2 separate regions of the Homo sapiens genome follow, and region 1 is linked to region 2. Evidence: fine-mapped QTL for protein levels in blood plasma. Region 2 holds a variant in brackets. A gene starts in the other region. All regions are shown on their reverse strands.

Region 1 (11,626 bases), not on the chromosome of region 2:
AGGTGACCCGGGCTCCGGGCGTGCGCACGAGGAGCAGGTGCCCGGGCGAGTCTCGAGCTGCACGCCCCCGAGCTCGGCCCCGGCTGCTCAGGGCGAAGCACGGGCCCCCGCAGCCGTGCCTGCGCCGACCCGCCCCCCTCCCAACCCCCACTCCTGGGCGCGCCGTTCCGGGGCGTGTCCTGGGCCACCCCGGCTTCTATATAGCGGCCGGCGCGCCCGGGCCGCCCAGATGCGAGCACTGCGGCTGGGCGCTGAGGATCAGCCGCTTCCTGCCTGGATTCCACAGCTTCGCGCCGTGTACTGTCGCCCCATCCCTGCGCGCCCAGCCTGCCAAGCAGCGTGCCCCGGTTGCAGGCGTCATGCAGCGGGCGCGACCCACGCTCTGGGCCGCTGCGCTGACTCTGCTGGTGCTGCTCCGCGGGCCGCCGGTGGCGCGGGCTGGCGCGAGCTCGGCGGGCTTGGGTCCCGTGGTGCGCTGCGAGCCGTGCGACGCGCGTGCACTGGCCCAGTGCGCGCCTCCGCCCGCCGTGTGCGCGGAGCTGGTGCGCGAGCCGGGCTGCGGCTGCTGCCTGACGTGCGCACTGAGCGAGGGCCAGCCGTGCGGCATCTACACCGAGCGCTGTGGCTCCGGCCTTCGCTGCCAGCCGTCGCCCGACGAGGCGCGACCGCTGCAGGCGCTGCTGGACGGCCGCGGGCTCTGCGTCAACGCTAGTGCCGTCAGCCGCCTGCGCGCCTACCTGCTGCCAGCGCCGCCAGCTCCAGGTGAGCCGCCCGCGCCAGGTGCGCTGCGTGCAGCACCCGGCGCACTGGCGCCGAAGGGCCTGGGGGTTGCTGGGTGCCGCTGCGGGAGACTCCGCTTTTCTTCTCACTGGAGATAATATGTGGGGAAACTGAAGGCGCTCCGGGAAAGGTGAAGGCGGTCGCCGGAGGGACCCTCCCCAGCCGGCCCTCTACTTGCTCGATTCTCTAAGTGCAGAGTACTTGTAAATTGCAAAGCGCTTTCAGTGAAAATGGGTTAAAGGTTTCCGGAGCTGAGGGGAGCGGTACCGATGTTTAGCTGTTGGAAAGATCCTGGACACAGGAGATTCTCCTCGCCCCGCACGGGGGTGCACACGGACTGCAATCCCAGGGATGCTTGGGGATGGGGGGGATATAGGCGGATTTGGACCAAGGAAGGTGGGCAGGCACGTTGTAGGAAATAGTACCTCTCTTTTAAAATACTGACTTTGCACAGCCTTTTGGTTTGCAAAGCAATGTCTAGTCCCGGTATGTCCAAAAACAAGTAAAGTGGATTCGGGTTTTGATATCTTCTGCGGTTGGAAAACCTGAAGCTGAAAAAGAAGTAACTTCTTAAGGTTACCCAGCGGCCACAACAGAGTGTAGGTTTGAACTCCGCGTGCCACTTTCAGTACCATACCATTCTTACAACTCGGGCCACCCCTGCACCTGCGCCGACCTCAAACAAACTTCCAGGTGCGTGGTGGGTGCGGGCAATGTGGACTAAGTCAATTTCAATGACACGGAAGGGAATTGGAATCAGTCCTAGGGCTGTCTCCCTTCTTAATCTGAAATGGGGGGGGGAATGAGATGTTGTTAAGGGGAGCCCCAGAAGAGGAAAAATGCAAACATTTGGCAGAGTTACCCTCTTGGCTTAGCCACTATCAGTATCAGGCAGACAGCGACTCTGGTAAGGGCATCACATTGTTCCCTTAAAAAAAGGAGCGGGGGTTGTTTAAATGGATTTGGCAGCTGTTCTTTCAAGCATTCTTAGCCAGCCTCACCTAGTTATATGAGAAATAAAGTTCCTGCCTTGCACAGCTGAAGGCTGGGAGAATTCTCCCCATCCTAATTCCCCCAACTCCCCAACGATCACGTTGGACAGATGTCACTGGGCAGGCCCCCATCTAGGGCTAGCAGGATGAACAGTCCCTTTATAATTTATGTAGCTGTAGAGTTCCACGCCCGGGTGAAGTTATTTTCTGGCTCGGCAAGGCTGGCTCTGTTCACCCCTGAGAAATGCTGGATTCATGGAAAGGCAAGATGCCTGAAACATACACTGGCTCTGGTCAGCTGTTAAAGCTGCTGGAGGCATTTGTCTCTCGGGGCAAAGTTATGTCATTTGCCAAGTGTCGTACATTATTGTGCATTTTGGGGTATTCAAAAAGTGATCTTAGAAATACTGATACACATCGTCATTCTTGGGCTTTAGCAATCATCATGATTACCACCTTAGTAGCACTGTAGTATAGGTTGATGTGAGTTATAAGATTATAAAAAGATCTAAGTGACTTCTAGAATCTATTTGACAAAAAAAGGTAAATTTTCGACAGTCAAAAGTCACAATTATCTGTTGCTTAAATAGAACTGTTTTGTCTTCATGCCCTAGTCTGCAGCCCAGGCATTAAGAAGAAACCAAGGAAATTTAAGAAATTACTCAAGGTTCTTAGAAAAGAAGTATAAATACGTTTATTTACATGTTCTTAGAGTATTTACATTCTTAGTATCTCTTTTATCTCAGTATTTCCTTGAAAAAGAAAGCAAGCTAAGATTAAAAGAAATTGAAACCAAATCCTCGCAGGTAGGGACCTCCTCTGTGAGGCTCTGTGCTGGACCCTGGGAATGTGTGCTTCCCAAGGTATGAAACCCCTTGGGGAACTTTACAGCAGGACCTCAGTGAGCTGTTTGGCAGGTGAGGAAACTAAGACCCAGAGAGGAGAGGGACTTTCCTAAGGCCCTGGTGAGTGACCTGCCAGTAGCCACTTCCAGGGGAGAGCAGAGCATCTGCAGCCAAATCATTGCAGCCCCAGGTAGCTTTCTAGAATAGACTGTGGACCAGATGGGCCACCTGAGCTCCCTGCTAGGGTTACACATTATAGCCCTGTTTGTTGTAGTAGAGAAATTTCATGACTCTCAATTGTGGACTTAAGCCGATGCCTCCAGACCTTGGCATGGTCCACAGGCCCTGGGAGCATGGGCTCTGAATGTAGCCTTTGATCCCCATAGCGGTCTTACAGCCCCTCCAAGTTCATTCTGAAGAAGGAATGGAGTGAGAATCCTGGCTGCAGATCCAGTCTTGAATTTAGTCATATACTTAAAATTCCAATTCAACTGTTAACATTCCAGCATCCATTTTAAGCATCAGACTTTCTTCATTTAGCACTTTTTATTATAAAAGGGAGATCTGCTGGAGGGGGATTTCTCCTACCCCACCCCCACCCAGGGAAGGAAAAGCTCTTTGGCACTTAGAAGTCTGAGCCGTGAGTGGGACTTTGGCATTGTCTGCATCCATGTGCTGCTGTGTTCACCCGGGGTGAAAAGGACTCACTTAGGCAGGCACCAGCAAGATGCACAGGGTCTGTGTAGACCTTGAGTTTTAGAGATGTAACGGGGACCTAGAAAACAAGCCACCAACATGCTTGCATGATTCTGAGCCCCTGAGGCAAAACGCTTTGCAGGTAATAATTCAGTTTTCCCATCTGAGCTGGACACCAAGCTCTTATAAGCGTGTTTACCTGGTAGCATTGAGGACGGTACTGGTCAACCTTGGAATTCCCATAAGGGCTTGTTACAACTCAGACTGCTGCCGCCACTCCAGCGTTTCCGGAGTGGAGAATGTGCATTTCTTCCAAGTCCCCGGGCTGCCGCTGCTCCCGCGGGTGGGAGGACCACACTTGGAGTTGACTGCAAAATTTCTGAGCCGGCGCTGCAGCAGCCTCCCGTGGCTCAGGTCTGCCCCCTGCCGGTGGAAGATGAAGCATACTGCCTTCACCTACTGAGGGGCACTGAAGCGTTTGTCTGCCTTCTTTAGTTGCAGCTACTTAGGAAGAGCACCTGTCAGATTGACTTTCAAACAGATAACTTCTTGAGGTAGAGCAACCACCATGTAGTGAGTAGTATGATGGAATAATACTTCATCGAGGTATTTTAAAAAAAAAAACTCACTTGGATTGCCAACTAATATTGTCATTTACATGTGACCTGGTTGCAACGTTAAGATTTTTAAAAGACTGTGATAGATATTGATGACTCTCATGTGTTTGTCTCTCTTGGGCGTTTTAAGGAAATGCTAGTGAGTCGGAGGAAGACCGCAGCGCCGGCAGTGTGGAGAGCCCGTCCGTCTCCAGCACGCACCGGGTGTCTGATCCCAAGTTCCACCCCCTCCATTCAAAGATAATCATCATCAAGAAAGGGCATGCTAAAGACAGCCAGCGCTACAAAGTTGACTACGAGTCTCAGAGCACAGATACCCAGAACTTCTCCTCCGAGTCCAAGCGGGAGACAGAATATGTGAGAGCTTTTCCTCTTGTTAAAGGAGGAGGGCAAGACCTGCCAAGCCTGGGTACTCAGAGCCTCTTGAGGGCAATTCTTACTCAACAAACCCCAGCGCCTGGCTGATGGGTGGGCAACCCCTAGCCCCTCTGTGCCCTACCTCTCTCCTCTCCTTACATAAAGAATATTGACCCTTTTGGAGAATCTTATGAGGATCAAGCTGAAATAACACTCTTAAAAGCATATGGGATGTCATAAAGACCTCTGCAGATAATGAAAAATATTCTCATAAAGATAGTTTTATTTACTTCATCCTCTATGCTTGTTGACCTGCTATTGGTTCCATACCAGCTTCTGTGCCTTACTCTGGGAAGAGCAAAAAGGAGACAGGGAGTGATGGTTAGCTTATTCGGGGGACTTTCGTGCTACATCAGACATAAGGTATCTGAGGAGCAAATTACAGGTCCCACTTTTGGTAGTTGTGCAGCATCGTAAGATTTTTAAAGCACACATTCTAGAGTAAAAACTGTGACTCTGTTGCTCTGGTCCTTCCTGATCCCCAGGGTCCCTGCCGTAGAGAAATGGAAGACACACTGAATCACCTGAAGTTCCTCAATGTGCTGAGTCCCAGGGGTGTACACATTCCCAACTGTGACAAGAAGGGATTTTATAAGAAAAAGCAGGTGAGTGAGGTCCTCAGTGTGTTTTCTTCCTCTTCTGTTGACACAGAGGAGAAACCCATCTCACCAGCCCCCAGGCTCTTCTGGCCATAGCTCTAACTCTGAGCCTGTGCAGCACCAGTGCCCAGGACTTGGTGCCAGTCTCAGGAGGTCAGACCAAGGGCTGCTTTGACTTGTTGCTCTGAGTGCTGCTATATTGGCCATAATCCTCAACCCTAGTGCCTTTCCACCACCCGCTTCCCACTCCTGTCCTTTCAATGGTTCACCCACAGGGCGGACAAGATGCTGCCCAGTGGCACCCTTTATAAACTGCAAGTGGACATGTTAACACATTTGTTAATGCTGCGTCAGGGAGTGACATTTCAAACAACTATTATAGTCAGTTTCCAAGAAGTGTGACATGAGGTCATACCACAAAAAGCTTACCCTGAAATCCCACAATCGTCCCCTTTCCTACTGATGCCTTCCCGATAGTGAGCAGGTTGCAATATTAAGATTTTGAAAAGGCTGTTGCTAGATGTTGGTGACTCGTGTGTCTCTGTCTCCCTTGGGCTTTTCAAGGAAATGCTAGTGAGTGGGGGGATGACTGCAGCATGGCCAGCTTGGAGAGCCCAGCCATCCCCAGCACATACCAGGTGTCTGTCTTGGCGTGGAGGGGATGGAACTTGAAATCAGACACTCGGTCCATGCTGGGGATGGCCAGTCTCTCCAAACTGGCCATGTGGTCTTCCTCCGACTCACTGGCATTTCCCTAGAAAGTCCAAGTGAGAAGAAGGCATGAGAGTCATCAACATCAAACAACAGTCTTTTCAAAATCTTTATATTGCAACATAGTCCCATTCCTGGAAAAGGAATGGAGTGAGAATCCTGGCTACACATCAGCCCCAAATGTAGTCATATGCCTAAAATCCCAATTAACCTGAAAATGATCAAACAAATTTAAGATATAGTAATATTAAGCTGTAATAAATATGCTTCTATAGGCTTTGTGTTATGTGATGGCACTATTTCAATTGGCTTTCTAATTGGACAATTGATACTATGCTATCTACAGAATTGGCCTTTGGAGACCTAAGTGAGCCACAGTGGCCTCAGGGTGACCATATACTAGGATTCATAGTAGTGGCCACAGTCAGAAAGCCTAAGCTTTCCTCCATTGCCATTGCTCGTTTATACCCACGTTTTCTGTCAAAGTCATATTCATTCAACAAAGTCATACTGAGAAGGTGTCATGTGAGGCTGGATGTGGGCTCCAAAGTCATAGCTGTGACATTCGCAGGCAGCGGGGATGTTCTCAGTCCCACATTTGGCAGAGAAGTCAGTCAAGAGGTTCTACAAGGGCTGGTGTCCACCTTATACTCCTAGAAACACAAAACTGCCCCCACCCCCGCTTTCTTGGAGCAGGAAGTTACACCCACACGCATGCACAGGCGCACACTCAGCGGGCCTAGGCACGCATGGCTCTTGTGTTGCCTTAGCTGAAATTTCTGTTGTGCTTTCTCAGCATAGCAGAGTCACGCTGGCAAACCATCATGCGCCCTGGCCACCGACCTGACACCAGACCCAGGAGCATTCACTTCTCTGTCTTCTGTTTCTCTCCCACAGTGTCGCCCTTCCAAAGGCAGGAAGCGGGGCTTCTGCTGGTGTGTGGATAAGTATGGGCAGCCTCTCCCAGGCTACACCACCAAGGGGAAGGAGGACGTGCACTGCTACAGCATGCAGAGCAAGTAGACGCCTGCCGCAAGGGTGAGTACTCAGGAGGGGCAGCCTGGGGCTCCAGGGCCTCACTGTCCTTGGACCAGCCTCAGGGGCTGGGCGTGGCCACTGGCCCTTCCCCAGGCTTACAGACCCAGGAGCTGCAGCTCAGGGCCAGAAAGAGCAAAGCAAATAGGACAGAGCCCTCAGAAGGGTGCAGGGAGAGGGAGACCCCATCAACCCAACCAAACAAGTGTGGGGAAGGAGGCCGGCCAGTGCACCTCAGGGACACTCTGCTTTATCTCAGATACCTCACAGCACCTAAGCTATCATTCATCCACACACAAAGTGAAGATTTTCAAAGTTAGGCTTTACCCGTGAGGTCTGGAGGTCCATTTATCTTCACAGAGAAACCGTTTTAATCCGCAAGAACCTGCTAAAGATACATGTTTCTAAATTAAAGATGTGAATGTGAGACAGCTGAAATAGCTCAGTTGGGAGAGCATCAGTTTGAAGATGCAGCTTTTTTTTTCTGTAAAATATATAATGAATATTCTGTTAGTCTGTGGCTAATATAATTTTAATAAAGTTAATTTAAATCTGATAGAAAAATGAAATTTTAAACGATAATTTTAGAGAATGCTATTATATCCAGTCTTCTTTTTTCTTTTAATAAATGAGGGAACTATTGGGGGAAAGGAATAAATACATTTTCTTTCATTTTATTAAGACAAATTTAGTAAGCAGAAGAAATTTGCATGTTTAGTTATAAGGGTTTCTTTTTTCCTTACAAGTTGGAAAAAATAATTCTAATTTAAGGGTAACTCTTTGACAATGAACACTGTGAGCAGCATCTGGTACTCGTTGCTTTGTTTGAAAACATGAGTTGAGACCCCAGCCCTGCACTTGCAGGCCTAGTGCCATTAGCCTGCAGGCTGTGCTGGATATCTCAGGGCAAGAGTCGAGCCCTTTTGATTTTGGGGGGATTATTTCAATATATTTCTTTTTCTTTTTGTTTTAGTTAATGTGGAGCTCAAATATGCCTTATTTTGCACAAAAGACTGCCAAGGACATGACCAGCAGCTGGCTACAGCCTCGATTTATATTTCTGTTTGTGGTGAACTGATTTTTTTTAAACCAAAGTTTAGAAAGAGGTTTTTGAAATGCCTATGGTTTCTTTGAATGGTAAACTTGAGCATCTTTTCACTTTCCAGTAGTCAGCAAAGAGCAGTTTGAATTTTCTTGTCGCTTCCTATCAAAATATTCAGAGACTCGAGCACAGCACCCAGACTTCATGCGCCCGTGGAATGCTCACCACATGTTGGTCGAAGCGGCCGACCACTGACTTTGTGACTTAGGCGGCTGTGTTGCCTATGTAGAGAACACGCTTCACCCCCACTCCCCGTACAGTGCGCACAGGCTTTATCGAGAATAGGAAAACCTTTAAACCCCGGTCATCCGGACATCCCAACGCATGCTCCTGGAGCTCACAGCCTTCTGTGGTGTCATTTCTGAAACAAGGGCGTGGATCCCTCAACCAAGAAGAATGTTTATGTCTTCAAGTGACCTGTACTGCTTGGGGACTATTGGAGAAAATAAGGTGGAGTCCTACTTGTTTAAAAAATATGTATCTAAGAATGTTCTAGGGCACTCTGGGAACCTATAAAGGCAGGTATTTCGGGCCCTCCTCTTCAGGAATCTTCCTGAAGACATGGCCCAGTCGAAGGCCCAGGATGGCTTTTGCTGCGGCCCCGTGGGGTAGGAGGGACAGAGAGACAGGGAGAGTCAGCCTCCACATTCAGAGGCATCACAAGTAATGGCACAATTCTTCGGATGACTGCAGAAAATAGTGTTTTGTAGTTCAACAACTCAAGACGAAGCTTATTTCTGAGGATAAGCTCTTTAAAGGCAAAGCTTTATTTTCATCTCTCATCTTTTGTCCTCCTTAGCACAATGTAAAAAAGAATAGTAATATCAGAACAGGAAGGAGGAATGGCTTGCTGGGGAGCCCATCCAGGACACTGGGAGCACATAGAGATTCACCCATGTTTGTTGAACTTAGAGTCATTCTCATGCTTTTCTTTATAATTCACACATATATGCAGAGAAGATATGTTCTTGTTAACATTGTATACAACATAGCCCCAAATATAGTAAGATCTATACTAGATAATCCTAGATGAAATGTTAGAGATGCTATATGATACAACTGTGGCCATGACTGAGGAAAGGAGCTCACGCCCAGAGACTGGGCTGCTCTCCCGGAGGCCAAACCCAAGAAGGTCTGGCAAAGTCAGGCTCAGGGAGACTCTGCCCTGCTGCAGACCTCGGTGTGGACACACGCTGCATAGAGCTCTCCTTGAAAACAGAGGGGTCTCAAGACATTCTGCCTACCTATTAGCTTTTCTTTATTTTTTTAACTTTTTGGGGGGAAAAGTATTTTTGAGAAGTTTGTCTTGCAATGTATTTATAAATAGTAAATAAAGTTTTTACCATTAAAAAAATATCTTTCCCTTTGTTATTGACCATCTCTGGGCTTTGTATCACTAATTATTTTATTTTATTATATAATAATTATTTTATTATAATAAAATCCTGAAAGGGGAAAATATTTTAGCTGTAGTGGAAAACTTCATAACCACAAATGTTTCCCTGCTTTCCCTTTTAGCAAAAGAACCCAAGTCAGTTTCCATGGCTTTGTGGGAAGCCTATGGAGGCATTGGGTCATATCTGCAAGATGGTCCAATTCTAGGAGGTTGTGTTGTTGGGACAGTCTGTGGCCCAGGTTTGATCAGGTCAGCAATGTGCACCTATGTGACTGGTCCTTGCCTTTTTTGGGTTGTGTCCTGTATTGTCCCATCTAACACTAGCAGCCATCCACAGACAAGCAGGGAAGGACCAGAACAGACACTCAGCAATTCAGTCTCGTGTCCTTTACCGCTTTGTCCCCTTCCCATCTCCAATCAGAGAGTGGCCCTTCTCTGCTCCAAGCAGAAGGGGTTCTGGGATCTAAGCCCCCTCATCTGCAGCCTTGGAAGAATTGTTACTTGTCAAAGCCACTTTAGACAAAACACTGAGCCTGTGGCTTCAGAGCATCCAAGGATAAACTGCAGTCGAAGAGTTACCTCCTGTCGAGTTACCTCCTGTCTAGCGCCATGTCTGATTTGTTGATGAAACATCTAAAATGATACCCTTATCACGTGTTGTATGTGATGAGCAGCAAGCCGGTTCTGTAAGTGTTCAGAGGACTGGTATTGTGGTGTGTGGTCTCAGGCTGATCACATGAGAAACCAGGACAAATGAGAAAGCAGGCCCCTTGGGGGTGCTGTGACTGCAAGGCTGTGAGGATGGAGGGAGACAGTGAGCAGAAGGAGCCCATTGCAGGGAGCAGGCACCAAGCGTCACGGAGAGTTGTGCGGCAGAATCCTGGAGCACCTGGGGAGCGAGGCCAAGTGTCTGGAAATCCAGGACCGGAACGTGGCAACCTCTTGGGAGCTGCTGAAGAGCTATGAGCTACAAAATAATGCTTGCCTTCTAAGCCCACTGGGTTTGTTTTCCTGGGAGCCACCAACTCATGTGCCCTTTCTTGTCCTCATTTCTTAACCTCTAACTTCTGCTGCTTCCCACACTTCATGATGATTAATTCTATGTGTCAACTTGACTGGGCCATGGGGTGCCCAGGTACAGCATCTGTGAGGGTGATACTGTGAGCGTAGTATCTGTGAAGGTGTTTCCAGATAAGATTAGCATTTAAATCAGTGGACTCAGTAAAATAGATTGCCCTCCCCAATGTGGGCAGGCATCCATCGATCCATTAAGGTTCTGAATAGAACAAAAGGCAGAGGAAAGAAGGGTTTGTGCCTTTTTTCTGTCTGCGTGGGCAGAATTGCACCACCAGCTTTCCTGGTTCTCCAGCTTGCAGATTACAGATGGTGAGACTTAGCCTCCATACTTAGCCAATTTTTTGTAATAAGTCTTTTTTGGTGGGTGATTAGAGATAAGTAGGTAGATAGACTAGATAGATGATAGATTGATAGATTAGATAGATAGGTAGATTAGACAGAGATAGATACATAGATGATAGATAGATAGATAGATAGATAGATAGATAGATAGATAGATAGATAGACAGACAGATAGATATAACCTGTTAGTTCTGTTTCTCTGGGAAACCCTGACACAATACCTATGATCAACTATTCCCTCTAAATGCTCTCCTGCCACTTCCAGTAAATACCTTAAAATTGCATACTCTCATTCTCCTCTGGACCCTCCAGTTCTTCTACCTCCCTGCCTTGGTTCTGATCCTCTGCCATCTTCCTCAGGCAACTTCTGCTCCCTGGGGCTTTTGCTTCCACTAACCCCTAAGGTCACATGTACCCAAGCAACCTGCACGCAGACACACACAGAAATGAACAAGTAAGGGTGGTCTCCTCCATGGGAGTCAAGGTGATGCAGGTGCTACAACAACAGCTTCCTAAGATTAAGTTATCAAATCAACACACTTTAGGAAAAATAAAAATCACCATTGTTGATGAGGGTACCCTAATGGGATTCCAGGTTCTCTGCTGTGGCAGCCTGTCTAGAGGGACATTTCTGATCTGATCAAACTCCTTGAACTAGTCATCCCACTGGAGAAACAAATCCCACAGGCATCATCAGAGACGTGCACAGACAGTTAAGTACAAGGGCATTTTACACTGAAATGCATTGGTACAAAGAAATATTATGCCACCACTAAAAATGTTTTTGAATAAGAGTTACAGCAAGAAAAATGTCTGTGGTGGGCTAAAAGAAAAGCAGAATGCAATTATATTGTGTACACACACACATAAAACCAAAATAAAATACACCAAAATATTAACCTTGGCTATGTGAGTGTAGGTAATGTCCTTGTTTTATTTCTATTTTGATACAATCTCAACAATTTCCACAGTGAACATGATTTGTTTCTTTTCATTCAGAAAAACTTGCTGCATGTT
Region 2 (11,493 bases):
AAGTAATATTCTGTCCTGTGGATGGACCACATTTGTTTGTCCATTGTTTATTGATGGACACCTGGGTTGTTTCTACCTTTTGGCTATTATGGGTTATAGATAATGCTACTATGAACATTTCTGTAAACACTCCATTTTTTTTTTTTTTTTTTGACAAGGTCTTTTTCTGTCACCCAGGCTGATGTGCGGTGACACAGTCACTCACTGCAGCTTTGAACTCCTGGGCTCAAGCCGTCCTCCCACCCCAGCCTCTCAAGTCGCTGGGACTGCAGGCACATGCCACCACGCTCAACTAATTTAAAAATTTTTTTCTTGTAGAGATGGGGTTTCGCCATGTTGCCCAAGCTGGTCTTGAACTCCTGGGCTCAACTGATCCTCCAGCCTCGGCCTCCCAAAGTGCTGGGATTGTAGGCATGAGCCACCACGCTGGCCCAAATTCCATTTTTTAAATTTTTGTAAAAGCAGTGTTGAAGAGAACCTGAAAGAATGGATAGGATTCTAAACAATTTTAGCTCAGCTCAGTGGTGGGTGGAGACTTTCCCTATTAGATATCATAACACAGTGGCCACCAAGCAGACACCAGACTGCCAGAGCTCCTCGCCCCCAAAGAACAAGAGGGCGCCCCATATACCAGGAAATATACCAGGAAGGCAGAGGCAGCCACAAGGAGGGGTATTTTTCATTTGAAATTCATGTCGCCTGTAATCCCAGCACTTTGGGAAACCGAGGCGGGCGGATCACCTGAGGTCGGGAGTTCAAGACCAGCCTGACCAACATGGAGAAACCCCGTCTCTACTAAAATTACAAAATTAGCCGGGTGTGGTGGCACATGCCTGTAATCCCAGCTACTCGGGAGGCTGAGGCAGGTAAATTGCTTGAACCTGCGAGGCAGAGGTTGCGGCGAGCCGAGATCGCACCATTGCACTCCAGCCTAGGCAAGAAGAGCAAAACTCTGTCTCAAAAAAAAAAGAAAAAAAAATTCATGTCATGTGATAATACAAATTTCAGTTGAATGAAATAATTTTCAGCCATATAATCTTTAGAAACATGTGGGACCAGCTGGGCATAGTGGCTCACACCTGTAATCCCAGCACTTTGGGAGACTGAGGCAGGTGCATCATCTGAGATCAGGAGATTGAGACCAGCCTGGCCAACATAGTGAAACCCCGTCTCTACTAAAAACACACAAATTAGCTGGGTGTGGTGGGGGGCGCCTGTAATCTCAGCTACTGGGGAGGCTGAGGCAGGAGAATTGCCTGAACACGGGAGGCAGAGGTTGCAGTGAGCTGAGATTGCGCCACTGCATTCCAGCCTAGGCGACAGAGCGATACTCTGCCCCTCACCCCTCCACACACACAAAACCGCCACCAAAAGCCATGTGGGATTGTGGGATGTACGCCCATGTTCACAGCAGCATTACTCACTGTAGCCAGAAGGTAGCTGCTGTGGTCACAATGTGTCCCCAGAATTCCTATGCTGAAGCTGATGGTCACTGTGATGGTATTAAGAGGTGGGGTAGGCCGGGTGCAGTGACTCACGCCTGTAGTCCCAGCATTTTCGGAGGCCGAGGTGGGCAGATCACCTGAGGTCAGGAGTTCGAGACCAGCCTGGCCAACATGGCGAAACCCTGTCTCTACCAAAAATACAAAAATTAGCTGGGTGAGGCGGTGGGTGCCTGTAATCCCAGCTACTCAGGAGGCTGAGGCAGAAGAATCACTTGAACCCAGGAGGCACAGGTTGCAGTGAGCCAAGATTGCACCATTGCACTCCAGCCTGGGCAACAAGCGAGATCCTGCCACACACACACACACACAACCACCACCAACAAAACCCATGTGGGATTGTGAGATGTACACCCATGTTCACAGCAGCGTTACTCACTGTAGCCATAAGGTAGGTGCTGTGGTCGGAATGTGCCCCCAGAATTCCTATGCTGAAGCTGATGGTCACTGTGATGGTATTAAGGGGTGGGGTATTCTATGACAGCAGCAGGAGTGGACTCAGACTGTGGACACCGCCCAGGTGTCTGCTGATGATGAATGGAAAAACCAAATGTGGTCCACGCATGCACGGGGACAGTGGCCAACCTCAGACAGGGAGGAAATTCTGGCACGTGCTCCGTGGATGAGCCTCAAAGGCAGTGCGCCGAGTGAAATAATCAGTCACAAAAGGACAAATGCTGTCTGATTCGAATTGCGCGAGGCACCTAGAGGACTCAAATTCATAGAGACAGAAAGTAGAAGGGCAGGTGCCGGGGCTGGGGGTGGGAATAGGGAGTCGTTTAATGGGGACAGAGTTTCAGTTTGTGGTTTTGAGAAGAGTTCTGGAGATAAATGGGGGTGATGGTTGCACCACAGTGTAAGTGTCCTTAATGCCATAGGACCATCCACAAAAATGGTTATGGTGGTAAAAATCTGTCATACGTATTTTACCAAAATTTTAAAAAATACGTGGGGACATTTGGCTAATCTGTGAATGGGGAAAAACCTCCCACTGATAAAAAGCAGAATAATTTTCCAAGTAGATACATGATAGGTTGGACTTCATGAAAGTAAAACATTCTACTTTGTGTCAATCCTGAAACTAAAACATGGGACCCTAGGAAGGGCTGTCCCATAGACAGCAAAGGACGGCCTTCCTGCCCTGCAGGGGTCTTGCACAGATGGAGGAGGAAAACTTGAGAGGAAATAGAGAATTTGGAAGATACAGGAAGGAATGAAAAATCATCGTGGATTCACACCATCATGAGTGCCAGTGTCTAGATATTCTCGTGTGGCTTACAGGCATCTCCAAGCTGCCTGGTCACTACCATCGTCCGTGTCCCTCAGGAAACACATGGGCAGGGCCTGGCAGGGGATCACAGTAGGCAGACCCAGTGTACAGAGAGCTGGGCAAAGCCATAGCCAGGTGGACAGGAACAGCAGCCAGACCTCCCTCTCCTGTGAACCTCTCCCCACTGCACTGGCAGCCATGGAATCCTTGCCTCGCTCTAGGGAACTGCCCCCACCATGATTCCTGGAGGCAGAGTTAGGAGTGAGAGGACATGTCTGAGGGCACAGGCATGGCCAGCACTGCCTTCCTGAAGCTCCAAGCCCCCATGGAGGGAGGCACCCATGGGCAGGACCTGGGCACCAGAGTGCGGTGAGAGGCAGGAGCTCCGACTGGGACAAAGGCAGATCCTGGGCATCCCCTCACTCTCCGGCCACCCTCTCTGGGGCGATGAACATCAGAACAGGGACTCAGGTGGAGGGGCCAGTGTCTTCTGTTCCACAGCCCCATCTCACCCATCCCACTGCTCTACATGAGTTGCCGACCACTATAGACAAAACCAAGAGCTTCCAGCTGCGTTCGGCCACTGGAGAGCCCAGCAGGCCCCGGGAGGGAGAACTGGGGAGTCCAGCAGGCCCTGGGAGGGAGAACTGGGGAGTCCAGCAGGCCCTGGCTGTCTCTGCTCCACAGGTAGCCTCTCCTCTCCCAGCCGTCTCATCTCCGGGTTCTGAGGACCCTGCCCCAAACCTTGAACCTCTAGGCTGATAAAGCCAAGGTGTCAGCCAGGGCACTGTACTCCTCACTTCACAAAGGGCCTTTTTTTCCTTTGAGACGGGGTCTTGCTGCAGTGCAGTGGCATGATCAGAGCTCACTGAAGCCTCCGCCTCCCAGGCTCAAGCAGTCCTCCTGTCTCAGCCTCCCCAGTATGTGAGACGACAGGCATGCACCAGCACCACTGAATAATTTTTGTAGATTGTGTAGAGACAGGGTCTTACTATGTTGCCCAGGCTGGCCTCAAACCCCCGAGCTCAAGCTCTCTGCCTGCCTCAGCCTCAGCAGTTGCTGGGATTATAGGTATGAACCATTGCACCTGGCACCTGGTCCTGACGGTATCCTTGTGAGCCCTCCTCAAACCACACTACGTGATCACACCCGTTTCCCAGGACGGGGACAGAGCCCTGGGAAGCGTGGGTTGAGGAGTGGGAACCACAGAAGGCTCGTGAGCAGCAGAGGGACATGAACAGATTTGTGTTTGGGATAAAATGGGGCTGGAAGTGGAGGTGGGGTTGGGAGTAAGGAGGGAGACGTAGCCAGAGGCGGTGGCTGCTGTGGCCGAGCCAGGGTGGGGACAGAAGAGAATGAACCCAGGAGGTTGACTCCACCTAACAGCCTGCCAGGGGCCCTGGGCGGCTCCTGCCACCCACAGGAGTGCAGAGCCCGAGGTGGCTCCAGGCCTCCACGGGGCAGCGTGGCCAGCGCCCGCCTCTGCTGCACCCACAGCGGTTGCTTGTGCTGCCAAGACCCGGCCTTGGGAGGGCAGAGGGGCCTGTCCTAGGGGCAGTCTTCCCCCAGACTGCCTCCCTGAGACCCCACAGCTGGTCCCACTCCCCGTCCCCACCCCACCCACTCTCTTGGGGTCTCGTCTGGTGGGAGGAAACGGCTTCCCCGGGGCCCTGGGCCAGTGGCTGCTTCTGGGGGCCCCATGGCTGCCGGTCGCCTCTGCCCCCTTCCCTCCCCAGGAGGCCTTCCAGGTCCTCCACAGACCCCCACATCCCGCCCCAGGGCACCCCTGCTGATGGGGCTGGGTTGGGATGAGGGTCGGCCCGCTGGGGTCTGTCAGCATCCACGACGGCCCGGCCGCAGTTTCCCTCACTGTGGAGCTAACGACACCTCCTCCTGCCTGTGGGGGCTGCTTCTCCTTGGCCCCGTCTTCCCCACACCCACTCTGCCAGGCAAACAGATCCCTCCCGCCCTCCTCGTCCTGCCCGGGCCTGTTTCCTGAGCAAGGTCACTGGAGTCGCTGGAGCCCAGAGCCAATAAAACCCAGTGATGCGCGCGGGCCGGGAAGCCACCCCGCCCAGGATGTTTGCTCCGCGCCGCACCCCCCACCCCCACCGGGTTCTCCGGTGGCCTGCAAGGGGTCTCGGCTCCGCGGCCCCTGCCACCCACAGGCCCCCACTGCCCCGGGAGGTGAGGATGTAGGGGTCCAGGGCCCATGCTCCTTCCAGACACTCACCTGACCCCACCCGGCCTTTCATGCTGGTGCCCTGGGGGCATCCAGGCCTTGTCCTCTTCCCCGTGGCTCTGCCCAGCCTGGTCCATGGGCTGCCTGGGACCTCCCCAGACATCTTCAGCCCTCTCAGCCCACTGAGGCCATCAGACCCCGGGGCCTTGTCCTCCCACGTGCTCCAAGCAGGAACCAGCCAGGTGCCACTGCCCCCTTCTCCAGGCCTGGACAGGGGCTGCCCCTGCCTCGTGAGCACCCCTGGGGCCCCGGCCCCGGGCCAGGCCGCTGCGTGTTCTGGATGACTCACAGCTTCCGCACACTCCCTGTGTGTGCCTCTTCCCGCCTCTCGTCCAGTCTCCTCTCTCAAGCTGGAGTGAGCGCAGCTTCGTCCTTCCCTGGGGCAGCATGGGGGCAGAACTTGAGGGGCCTGGATCTGCTCCTCTCTCTGAATTGACCCCCACAGCTAACCCCCCTGTGCCCCTTTGCCTCTGAGCCCTCCCATAGGCTGTTCCCTCTGCCTGGAATGCTCTTCCGGTTCAACCTTGATCCCACGACCCAGCCCCATGCTGGTGCCCTGCAGGTGTGTTTGTCCGATGGAGACACGTGTTCAGGGCTCAGCCAGCCCAGGGGGTCAAGGGCAGTAAGTCCTAGGCCCAGCTGTGGGGCTGCCGTCATGAGCCCACCGTCCCCAGAAGGTCAGCGTGACAGCGTCCTGGGGGTCAAGGGAAGAAGAGGCTGTGCCGGCAGGTCTGGTTTGTGGGGAGGGTGTGCACCTGATGGGGACGAGGCTATGACCAAAGGCACAGATGTGGGCTGTGGGTGGCCGGGACCAGACTGGGGAGCTCGGCAGGGCCATGAGGCTGGGGCCTGGGACGGACAGGGACCGGGGTCCTGGGGGCTTCAGGCTGGACAAGGTGGGGAGCAGGGTGGCCCGAGGCTTGTGGCCGGGTCGAATGGGCTGGGGGTCAAGGGCGTCTTCACCCGAGAGTGAGGGCACTGGCGCCTCTGTCTGCCCCTCGTGGCTGCCGGCCCTGCAGGGAGAGCGCCCGGTGTCAAATCAATTGGAGAAATTGATCTTGGCAGGGATTTCCGAGCCATCTGCTCGGTCCCCAAAGCCTTCTGAGAGGGTGAACATGGCACCCAAATCCCTGGGGAGGCAGGTCGAGGGGGGTGCTGCGGTGTGAACGGGCCTCGGTTTCCCCCAGTGCACCCTGGATGCACCCCTCTTTGGTGACTCAAGAGGCAGAGATTTGTGGACCCCCTGCAGAAGCCCACCCTGCCCCGCCCAGAGCTGTCAAGAAGCTGTGAGGGGCAGCTCCAGCCTAAGACCCCAGGCAGCTTCCATCATTTTTCACCCTGTTCACGAATTCCACGCCTCCCGCTTCCTGCTGGGCATTTGGCCGCCCCCGTCCCGGCCTTGTCTGGCTCAGCGGGGCTGGGGCCGGGGGCGGGCCCTGTGTCGGGCCTCGGGGGAGCCCAGGCTCCGCTCACTCTGCGCTGGCTGCACTCGGCTCCAGGGACAATATTTGCTCGGGGAAAGAATCAAACATTTATCCTCGCATTTATTCAGGGGAGCAGTTGTCAAACACGCGTGTCCTCACTGCTTGGATGTTTCCCAGGCCTGGCCTCAGCCTGGGCCTTTCTCCTGCCAGGATTTGTGCCCACTCAGCCGCTCCCTGTGCCCTCCAGGAGGTTGAGGTCCTGCTCTGGGCAGACGGCGGGAGCACGGGTCGGGGCCAGTGCTGGGCAGGGCAGAGGGGTCCCTGAGGCCGAGTGATGCCGCACCCTGGTCCTTCTCCTTCCAGCCTCAGAGCAAGGCCAAGGTGCCCCAGAGACCCCAGCAAGGCTCTCTGGGCCCACGTTCTGGGCCTGGGGCGCCAGGAAAAGCTGGTGTTTGGGGTGGGGGAGGTAGGACAATTCTAGGTGGGAGGCGGCGGGATTCCCAGGGCCTGCCATTTGCGTCACCCGCGCGGCCGCTGCCTCTCAGCAGTGCTGTCTGCTGTGGCCTGGGGAGCAGCTCCCCGCTGCGCCTGGATGACCGTCCTCTGCTCCTGTCCCCGTTCCCTCTCCCGGGCCAGAGCCCCTGCCCCAAAGCAGAAGAGACGGCCGCAGGTTCCCTGTCCTCTCCAAGCCCTGACCCTCAGGTCCTCCTGCAGCAGGAGCACCTCTCCCTAGTGCCCTCAGGCACCCCACACTGGACCCCTCCAGACAGAGCCAATCTCAGCACGGCACAGCCATCTGCACCCCCAGCAGCCTGGAGGGCTGCAGCCTTCACCCCAACCTCAGCCCCCAGCTCTCCTCTGCACCAGCCGCCTCCCCACCTCGCCCCTGGCTAGGCCAGCGCCCAAGCCCCCACACTCCCCTCTCTGAGACAGCAACTGCCGCCCGCAGCCTCCCATGGGGGGTGTCGGGCAGCAGGGTGGGGCCCCCAGGACAGGCGTGACCCTGGCTGACCAGGGGCTGCCCAGCCACACTCCCCTTACACCTGCATCCCCAGAGTCCACACAGTGCAGGGCAAGCGAGGGGCTGGGGCCCTGGCCAGGGACTCCGGGGACCTGAGTCAAGCGCTTTCGGGTGTCTTTAACTTAGCAGAGCAGCCTTGGACGGGGACCCGGTGGCTCGGAGCTGACATGCAGCTGGTGGGCCGGGCAGGTCAGCTCCGCCGTCAGGAAGACCCTCTCGCCTGGCCGGCCTTCTGGAAAAGTCGCTCCCCAGAGGGAAGGCCGGCATGGGCTGGGGCCAGATGGAGGGTGAGGCGGCCCTGAGCACTTGCACGGCATGGCGGAGCCCCCCACCGGTCTGGCCACCTCCCCTACCTCCCGGGAGCCCCCGCTGTGTGGCAGACGGTTAGAGGGGATGGTCGGTCACGGTGGGGAACCTACTGCCCTGTGTCTACCCCAGCCTGGCTTCAGCCAGCTCTGTCCTCACACCACCGCCGGGGAGCATCCTGACTGGCAGGTCATGGGTGGGGGTCACCGCAGTGCAACCTCCGCTCCTGGGGGTGACACGGGGCCGCCCACCCCCCGCCTGCACTCTCACAGCTTGCTGGTCTGCATAAGCCCGTTGGCTGCGGCGCGGTGCGCGGGTGGCGTGGCCTCCTGCTGCTGCCGGATCCTGTCTGGACGCGGCTCCGTGGCGTCAGCGTCCTTGGCACCAGAGCCCTTGCGGAGGCACAGAACCTTCTGGAAGCTCTGGCGGAAGTTGTCAGAGAGGAAGCCGTAGAGGACGGGGTTGGCACAGCTGTTGGCGTAGGAGAGGATGACCACGAAGAAGTAGAGGCCGGCGGAGGCGGGCTCCTGGGGCAGCGCCACGGCCAGGTTGACGATGTTGACGGTGAAGAAGGGCAGCCAACATCCCGCAAACACCAGCACCACCACCAACACCATGCGCGTCACCTTCCGCTCCGAGCGCCGCCGCACGCAGCCCACGCGCACGCCCGCCGCCCTCACCTTCACCACGATGAGCAGGTAGCACAGGCAGATGACCAGCAGCGGCGCGAAGAAGCCCAGCACGGCCGTGTAGATGATGAAGACGGCGCCCCACAGCCCCACGGGCTCCGGCCAGCTGGCGTTGCAGGTACCGCCCTCCTGCACGTCCGCGAACACCAGGAGCGGCAGCGACATGCACAGAGACAGGACCCAGGCCGCGGCGCTCGCCAGCTTGGCCACACGCGGGCGGCGCCAGCGGGCCGAGCTCAGCGGGTGCACCACTGCCAGGTAGCGGTCCACGCTCATGACTGTCAGGCAGAAGACACTGGTGAACTGGTTGACGCCGTCCAGCGTCATGACCAGGCGGCACAGGACGGGGCCGAAGGGCCAGAAGGACGCGGCGTTCTGCGTGGCCAGGAAAGGCAGCCCCAGCATGTACAGGACGTCGGCCACTGCCAGGTTGAGAATGTAGATGTTGGTGACGGTCTTCATCTTGGCGAAGCGCAGCACCACGTAGATGACCAGCGTGTTCCCGCCCAGCCCGGCCGCACACACCAGCA[G/T]GTACAGCACGGGCACCAGCACCGCCCGGGCCCCTGCCGAGGGCGCCGGCCCCACCAGCGTCCTGTTGTCACCGCCTCCAGAGGCAGCCCCCGGGGAGGAGGCGTTCCAGCTGGGCGTGGAGGCTGGGAACAGGGGCTCCATGGCGGCAGCCCTGGGGTGCGTCAGGCTCTGCAAGAGAAGAAGGGAGGACGCCAGGGTGGTGAGTCCCTGAACCAGCACATGCAGGCATTCCTTCCTCCTGGGCCCCAGCCCCGCCTGCCAGGAGGCGCGGGATCACCGGGTAAACACGATTAGTCATGTTTAGCTTGGCCGGGAATCACGTTAAGCAAATTGTTTGGAAAATAAGCCAGGAGAGGAAGGAGCGGCGGGCAGGTGGCCCCGGGAGCCCAGACGGACGGCTGCTGTCGATATGGCGACAGCTGCCCTGTGGCCGCCCCTGCACCCAGATGGCGCCTGGCCTGGCCGCAGCATCCTGGAGTCTGAGGCCAGCACCTGCGTCTCCCTGAAGCCCCTCAGAGCCTGCCCTGCAGTGCTGCTGCCCTCGTCTACCAGGTAAGGAGCCGAGGCCCAGCGGGCGGCCCCTCCCGGGACACACAGGGAGAGGTGGCAGTGGAGAGAGATGGGGCCGGTGGTCGGCCCCCTGTCCGCCTGGGATGAATGGCACCTGGCTAGGACGACCTGAGAAGTGGCTGGACGTGGTGTCGCCACCGCAGCCTCGAGGGACTTTCACCGGGGTGCCCGCTGCCCGTTGGCCCCGAACCTCTCTCCAGGCCAGCGCAGGGACCGTCACCCCCACAGCAATGACAGACATCTGTAAACCCAGGCGGGGGCACAGCACAGGGCCAGAGAGACACCACCCTCCCCACGGGGCGGCTGCAGAGAAGCAAACACACAAACCACACAGAGTGGTCACACGGAGCCCCAGGAGTCACACAGGGCGAAGGAGGGGGGACTGCGGGCGGGGGCTGCACACCCTGCAGCCCGGAGGAGAAGCCGCGGTGGGGGGTGTGGGCGGGTCAGAGGCATAGCGTATGGGGGCTGCAGCCACCTGACACTGCCCAGTCCCATCGGAGCTTTGAGCCCCCTCCCAGGCCCTGGAACCCCCCACTGTGGCCCAGAGAGAGAACAGGGGAGACTTGGGGGAGGGGAGGGAGGGGTGTCCATGGAGAAGGGTGGGCTGGGAATGGTGACGTCTGTGGGTCCAAGGCCATGGGCACGTGTGTACCTCGTATATTGTTTTTGTATTTTTCTGCATGTTTGAAATCATTCATAAAAATGATACTCCGGCTGGGTGCAGTGGCTCAAGCCTGTCATCCCAGCACTGTGGGAGGCCGAGGCGGGTGGATCACCTGAGGACAGGAGTTCAAGACCAGCCTGGGCAACATGGTGAGACCCCCGTCTCTACAAAAAATACAAAAATTAGCCAAGTGTGGTGGCGGGCGCCTGTAGTCCCAGCCACTGAGGAGGCTGAGTCAGGAGGATCATTTGAGCCCAGGAGGTTGAGGCTGCAGTGAGCTGTGATTACACCACTGCACGCCAGCCTGGGTGACTGAGCAAGACCCTGTCTCAAAAAGAAGATCAATGCCTCCCCTGACGAGTGGGGCGGAGGAAGTCCGGATGTTTGGGTTGACCCTGGAGCTGTGTGACTCTGGGGGTGGCCAGCAGAGAATCAAAGTGTCCCCTAGGATCCAGACCAGGGACAAGCCCCTCCCTGGGGGACCTCGGCCTGAGCAGGGGTGGAGCCGGCTGTGGTGACCTCAGCATGTGCCGTCTGGAGCCCTGGGGCTGCTCAGCTGACCGGCCCTGACCCTGGAGGCACCTCAGAGCACAGGACGACCCCAGCAGCTGCCAGGAAAGGCCACAGTCCTGGCTGGGGGCTGTGGGGCTGGGCCAAGGCCACTGAAATCTGGTAGACAAGGAAAGGAGAGCTGGGGACGGGGGAGCCCAGAACACAAGGCTGACAGCACAAAGAGAAAGCCCTCTGTCCCCAACAAACCTAGAAATCAACATCCCCAAGCTCGCATGGCCCAAACACACTAAGAAATACGACTCAGAAAATCAACAGGGCCAGTGGACCCATGGATCCATCTCAGGGAGATAAAAATAACGAGCAAACAGGTACGCTTAGGCTATGTTTAAATATGTGCAGGATCCACAGAGACAGCATGGATAAAATGTTAGGAAATACATTTGGCTTCTGTCTAAGGAGTAAAATGAACAGGCATCTATTTTTAAAAATTACAAATCCTGGATGTAAAAAATACAATCATTTAAGTGGAAAAAAACACTACAAAAGTGGTCAGAACCAACTCCAGTGTGGACAGCACTGAAGAGAGAATTGGTGAATGGGAAGAGGGTTGAAAGATTCACTGGAGCAGGGTGCTGGCACAAGGTCCAGAGAGGGCTCTGTGGGGTGGGCAGGGGGAGAGCATGGCTGGGCTCCCCCAGAACTGGCGACAGGATCCCTTCTGGGAGCGCACCTGTCCCAAGCAGCATAAAGGAATGAAA

Direction of the effects. Positions count from the first base shown, and alleles are read on the strand shown. Strength reflects both the effect of a copy and how common the allele is.
For the plasma level of the protein whose gene starts at base 228 in region 1, allele T in region 2 goes with a lower level than allele G (weak association).

What was found. PIP is the chance, under the fine-mapping model, that this variant and not a neighbour inherited with it causes the effect. Protein levels are from antibody-based Olink assays in UK Biobank. Linkage for the fine-mapping came from a reference panel and not from the study's own genotypes, which makes the PIPs less certain.
Region 1: it holds the start of IGFBP3, and the variant in region 2 is fine-mapped to the plasma level of the IGFBP3 protein (UK Biobank, PIP above 0.99).

The regions. Positions count from the first base shown.
Region 1 is chr7:45,909,874-45,921,499 of GRCh38, reverse strand. It overlaps IGFBP3 (insulin like growth factor binding protein 3), which reads left to right and starts at 228. Exons shown (of 5, transcript NM_000598.5): 1 at 228-762; 2 at 4,061-4,287; 3 at 4,833-4,952; 4 at 6,555-6,695; 5 at 7,666-9,255. The coding sequence starts at 360. The coding sequence ends at 6,680. RefSeq lists an enhancer at 1-425.
Region 2 is chr16:1,076,502-1,087,994 of GRCh38, reverse strand. SSTR5 (somatostatin receptor 5) reads right to left here. Exons shown (of 2, transcript NM_001172560.3): 2 at 6,541-9,153. The coding sequence starts at 9,126. The coding sequence ends at 8,032. SSTR5-AS1 (SSTR5 antisense RNA 1) reads left to right here and starts at 9,264. Exons shown (of 4, transcript NR_027242.1): 1 at 9,264-9,537; 2 at 10,283-10,371. RefSeq lists enhancers at 4,212-5,064, 8,846-9,510. The variant G/T (reference allele first, on the strand shown) is at 8,985.